Linked DNA regions of Homo sapiens. The protein of the gene in region 2 purifies or fractionates together with the protein of the main gene of each other region. This does not show direct contact. Each region holds a gene or a part of one and is shown on either strand. Other genes may lie near its edges.

Evidence for each region.
Region 1: the proteins of MFGE8 (region 2) and MYOM2 purify together in Homo sapiens (co-immunoprecipitation; one large-scale study listed by IntAct). This does not show direct contact.

Annotation. Positions count from the first base shown.
Region 1 is NC_000008.11:2,093,395-2,097,048, reverse strand, and holds part of MYOM2 (myomesin-2), read right to left. Parts: intron 3,080-3,654; coding exon 2,958-3,079; intron 803-2,957; coding exon 615-802; intron 1-614. UniProt on the Homo sapiens protein: Major component of the vertebrate myofibrillar M band. Binds myosin, titin, and light meromyosin. This binding is dose dependent.
Region 2 is NC_000015.10:88,900,737-88,903,488, forward strand, and holds part of MFGE8 (lactadherin isoform a preproprotein), read right to left. Parts: exon of another isoform or gene 1,447-2,752; intron 1,000-1,446; coding exon 815-999; intron 23-814; exon of another isoform or gene 1-22.

The sequences.
Region 1 (3,654 bases), on a different chromosome or scaffold from region 2:
GGGTCATTCATCTATGCTCAGATGAGGGGTCAAGGGCCGGACAGGGAAACAGAGCAATGGCTGCCAAGGGGGTGTCTGGATCTGACCCCAGATCTCTGAGCTCCAAGTCGATGTCCTTGCCACACTCTGCACCTGAGCACCAGGGGCACTGAGGCAAGGGACTCTCTGGGAGGCCTGAAATACAAGAATGTCTCAGGGAAATGGTGGGTGACAAGCAGAGAGCCAACATTACTCTCTTCCTAAACAGACATTCAGCGTGACCCTCCCCTCAGGCACACATGTGAGACTCCGTCCCTGCCCTCAAGGCCTCAGAGCCTAGAACAAGGGACATTACCACAGGTACTGGGACCAGATGCTGGTCACACCAGAGGTCATGGACTCACTGTCAGGCCCACTCCATCACTGAGCTCCCTTCTTCACTGCTTCTCAGAAAGAAAAAGAATATGATTCCTAGGATCTTTTTAGCTCCAAAACTTCATGATCTCATGATGCTATTTTTTAATCCATTTTTGTGTCTGTATCAAACTATCTAATGTCATCAAACGCAGAAACATTGCCAAAAATGTAAAGAACCACCCAGGCAAAAATAGACGAAGGAATAAAAACCAACTGACCGTTAGGATTGTCGGTTTGCTGGGTGAGGAATTGACCTCGTGCCAGTTTTTATGGTGAACTTCACGCTTGTCCAGGTAGTAGCCCAGGATGGGCGAGCCACCACTGAATTTCGGGACCTTCCAGCCGAGGGTCATGGAGTGGCCGTCACAGTTGAGGAGCGTAATCCCATAAGGATGGGACGGGACGGCTGCAAGGAAGCACAACCAGGGAGTTACCGAGGGCCTCAGCTGGGGGCTTTGTCCCCGGGGCAGCCAGCTCCAGTGTGGCAGAGGGAGGAGGAAGCAACGTGGAGACGGGCCTGAACACTGTGCCCTCTGATCCCTCTCAACCCACACTTAACCACCTTGGTCTTTACACCTTTTTAAAGGGGATGAGTACAAAAATAAATAAAAATTTATCTCATATATATGTATTGCTATTTCTAAGTGTATCTACTAAGGCTTCCATAGGATGAACGGTTTAAATCTGGTATGAACATTTGACACAGCAGAAGATGTTCTGTCTTCTCGGCCCCTTGAAAGAAGCTTGGCGAAGGAGCTTTCACTTTTACAACCATAAGGAATAACTATTCTGCATCTGTGGCCAGAGATGACAGATACGATTCCAGTTTGTTTTAATTTCCTGCACAGTTAGAGGAACTTCAGGTTCCTTCAAATGAGTGTGAATCCGTGTTTCCCTGTTTGAGCAGGGCATTTGAAACGGACCGCCTTCTCCTAACAGGTCGAGAACGGATGGGCCTGAGTCTGCTTGCCCCAGCTCTGAGTCACCTCAATGTGGCCATCCTCTGTTACCTGAGACACAGGTGACTGGAATTAAGTGATTCTTATCATAGAATAAAAACAGGCCAGGTGCGGTGGCTCATGCCTGTAGTCCCAGCACTTTGGGAGACCGAGGCAGGAGGATTGCTTAAGCTCCTGAGTTTGAGATCAGCCTGGGCAACATAGTAAAACCCCATCTCTACAAAAAAATCAAAAAATTAGCTGGGCGTGGTGGTGGTGCCTGTGGTCCTAGCTAATCAGGAGGCTGAGGCATGAGGATCACTTGAGCCCAAAAGCTCAAGGCTGCAGGGAGCTGTGATCACACGACTGCACCCCAGCCTGAGCAACAGAGCGAGACTCTACGTCGAAAAAAAAAAAAAAAGAAAGTGGTTTTCCTTTAGTAGGAATGACATTAAAAAGAAAATGGGAATGTTTGAAAGTCCCTCCTGGAAAAAATTGAGAGGAGATTAATCTTAAAACAAAAGAGTCAGCGCTATTGTACCTAGCTAGATGTTATCAGATTTGACATTCCTTGGAAATCCAACAGCAATATCATTAGAAGATAAATTTTAATTTCTGAAAATGTTGCAAATTTAGTCAAAGATGAAAAATCATCAACGAGCCACATAGTTCCCTCTGAAGTGGGAAGATAACCCTGTGAATCCAAGGGTGTCCCATGTGGCATTTGTGTTTCAAAATGTTTCTGAGTATGCGCACTGACTTCCTGAGGTGCATTTCATGAGAAAACAGAAAGCCACGAGGCTGCAGCACAGCTTGATACAGCAACTGTTCTAGGGACGGTCCCTGAGATTTAGGATCCCAATTGTCTCGTTTGATCAAAATAATAAAAACTGTTAAACACCACTATTTACCAACAAAGTCTCAAAGTTACATAAATATGACATTCTCTGAAGTGACTAAAGTTCCTAGAACTGAGAACAGCTAAAAAGGTCATGGATGTTGCTGTATTTTAGCACATATTTTGAAAAGAGAAATGTATCCCCTACAGCATATATATATTTTTGAGACGGAGTCTTGCTCTGTCCCCCCAGGCTGGAGTACAGTGGCACGATCTTGGCTCACTGCAAACTCCGCCTCCCAGATTAGGTGACTCTCCTGCCTCAGCCTATCGAGTAGCTGGGACTACAGGCGCCCGCCACCATGCCAGGCTGATTTTTGTATTTTCAGTAGAGACGGGGTTTCACCTTGTTGGCCAGGATGGTCTCAATCTCTTGACCTCATGATCCAGCCACCTTGGCCTCCAAAAGTGCTGCGATTACAGGCATGAGCCATTGCGCCAGCCTACAGCATATATTTTAACATGAGTACAGGTATTTGGCAACAACAATGTTTTCTATTTTTAATTTGCGTTTTATTAGTGTATTATCATTTCTCCCTCTCACACTGTCATTTCCAAGACAAGCAGCCAACCGAGAGGCTTCAAAGAAACTCAAGTTCTCTGTTCAGGAATTTAGTCCCCTTTTCCCCTTCAATGACATTCCAAATGGCATCACAAATGTTTATTCATGCAGAAATGACAGTGTATGGGAGCAATCGGCACACAACAGCCTGTGAGTGACTTACTGAGTGCGGCCTGCACTTTTATGACGTCTGATTCCTGGGAATTTTCACTCATCCCCACAGCATTGACCGCCTTGACTCGGAAGATGTACTGCTCTCCCGTGGTTAAGCCGTGCACCACGAACCTGAGAAACACAGGGATCAGGGTCAGAACTGCCAGGCTCCACTTTTTCTCTCCTGCAGCAGAAGCAAAAATCACCCTGAACGCGCCATAAAAAATTTTTATGGATAACATACATCCTTCATTTTCAATTCTAGTTAATTAGCTCAACATGTAGAGTCCGACAGTAAGGTCACAGCACCTAATTATAGCAGGAGCTGACTACACGTGGTGCCAAAGCCACTTGTTCTGTGAGTTCACCTTTGCTTTTGTACTTTCTGGGCCTCCTCTGGATCAGAGGTCTATTATCCAACAGTATGCCATTTCTTATCTAAAAGAACCCGTGTATGTAAAACTTAATTAGCAGTAATTACACTGCAGTGGTTACAGGCCAAGACTTGGAAGTCAGATGGACTAGGCTCGAATACTGGGGCTTTGAAACCTCACAGATTTTATGGTCTTAATCAACCTCCTTAACCCCTGTAAGACTTTGTTTTTCTATTTGTAAGATGGGGATGATAATTCCCACCCCACAGCACTATTGCAGGCACTACATGGAAAACTCTAGGTGGACAACTTAGCACAGATGCTTTGTGTATG
Region 2 (2,752 bases):
TTCCATGGCTCTCTTTTGTTTCCTAGTTTCAATGACAGACAAGGGCTGTCACATGGTGGCTTCTTAGACACTGAGTCAGAGAATATGTATGCTGTGCTCAAGGGAGAGGTCCCAAGATGCCTGGGTCATGTCTCCCTCTTCCGCCTCCGCCCTGCTGTCTGTCCATAGGCTGAGCCTTGTCAATCCTGTGGCAGCCCATGGAATGGCTCTCCCCTTGTGTACACACATACACACACATTCACACACACACATTCACACACACACATTCACACACACACACACATTCTCACACACACATATTCACACACATTCACACATACACATTCACATACACATTCACATACACATTCACACACATTCACAAATACACATTCACACATACACATTCACACACACACATTCACACACACATTCTCACACACACATTCACACACATTCTCACACATTCACACACACATTCACACATTCACACACACACATTCACACATACACATTCACACACACATTCACACGCACGCATTCACACGCACGCATTCACACACACTCACATTCACACACATTCACACACTCACACACACACATTCACACACACACACACATACACACACACACCCTTTCTCCACCTTGGTGGAAGCAGGATCAAGAGAAGGGAGTACAGGTGGGAAGAAGAAAGAAAAGCCGAAGAAAAACAAGGCTTTTCCAGAACTCTTTTGGGGAGCAGAAGAGAAGCCTGGGCTGGAGAGAGGTCAAAGATCTGGCAGTCCCACCTCATCCCACCCAACCCCAGCCCCATATCCCAAGAAGGCTGACCCACCTGCAGCCACTGATCGTTACCGTAGCTCCCCGCAACCCAGGCGTTGAAGTTGCCCTGCTTGTCCAGCCGTGCATAGGAGGGGTTCCAGCTGAAGAGATGCAAGCCCCAGGTCTTGTAGCTGCTGGAGGCCGTGATCTGCTTGTCAGGGATGCTGTTATTCTTCAGGCCCAGGGGATTGGCGCATCCTGCCAGCAAGGTGGGCTGTCATCTGGATCTGGGATCCACAGCTCCCAGGGGCAGGAGCACAAGGCGATGAAGCAGAAAGAACTCTGTGGATCCTGACCAGCCCCTGTCATGCTCTTGGGCAACAGAAAGCAGCTCCATCCGCCTTGCAGGGCCAACTGTGCGACCTTCTCACTGCCGACCCCACCACCTCCTCACCTCAACCAGCCGGGCTCAGCTCCTCACAGATCACCCAAGACCTCCCACTCACCACCCTTCTCCTCTGCACCAGGGAAGGCCCCTGCTCCACCACCTCCTGCCCTCCTTCAATGCCTGACTTTGGAGACACCTCCTCCAAGAAGTCTGCCCTGACTACTTCACTTGGGCAGGATTTCTTCCTCTTCTGGACTCACAGCACTGCCCCCATCGCCTCGGCCTCCCATCCGTCCCATGGCACAGTCACTATCTACTTTAATAACAACCACATTGTTTATTCAGTGCTTACTTCAGTCATTTAACCTGCCACCAAAAAAAAAAAGAAAAAAAAACACTAAATGAAGTAGAAATTAGTAAGCCCATTCTATAGATGAGAAAACTGAAAGACATTAAGCATCATGCTCAAGTCACATACAAACTCCTAATGTCACACTATGACGTCACCTCTACCAGCTACACATCCCAGCTAGATGATGAAGGCCTGCCTAGTGACGACCCAGTGATGAACAGGACAACATCCCTGCCCTCCAGCAGCTGGCAGTTAGAGAAATCAGACAACTCCTGGGGCACAGGAACATCTCTATTTCCATTCCCCAGAAGCCCCCTGACTTAGTGTCTCCCAGAGGGCCTTCGCACACTCAAATGTTCTGGGGATGCTGTCACACAGGCCTGTGAGGGCTGGCCCGGGAAGCTGGCCTTTGTTTCACTCAGCCCTGCCCCAAACACTCAGGAATGTGCCGGGCTGCCTTGCACTTGTATCTGCACCTGCATATGGATAGAACAGTTGGGGATGGGCAAGAGATACAACTCCCAAGAGAATGATGGGGGTGTCTCCCACCTGGAAGAATCCTCACTCCACAAGTGTCTATCCCTCTGGGGAATTGAGGGAGGCAGGAGTGGACGGTGGGACTGGAGAGCCCCCTGCCCTCTGGGAGCCAGCTAAGTTATATCACTGCCCTCCAATACTCTCACCACTCAAGAGTACTGGGAGCCAGCTAAGTTATATCACTGCCCACCTGTACTCTCACCACTCAAGACATTTGCCTCCAGGGTGTGTTGACAATGCCTGCTGATGGTACCATCATCTCCTGATGGTGATGCACCAGGGAACCACCACCTTCCCCCTCAAAGAGAGGCTCCCGGGCTGAGAGCTGGTTGTCCCTTGGCCCCAGAAGAGGAGAGGCCTGAGGCAGGCTAAAACCTGGGCAGCTTTGCAGAGGACACCAATTCTGCACAATGTGCTCAACGCAGACCCCTCTACAGATCATCTGCTTCTAGTGGTTCATACCCTCCTCACTCTCAGCCTCCCCAGGAAGTCAGACAGCCTTTCTGGTAAAATGCAGTTGGAAGGGGCACCAGGGCAGGGACAGGACTGTCAGCTCCAGCACTCTAGGAAGTCCCTTCCTCTCTCTGGCTCTCAGTCTCCCCATCTATAAAATGAGATACTAGGGGAGTAATTCTCACAGATCACCTGGGGATCTTGATATAAAAAAAAAAAGCTTATGTTTCAGCAAGTCTAGGCTGGGGCTTTCAGTCTGTATTTCTTTTTTTTTGTTTTTT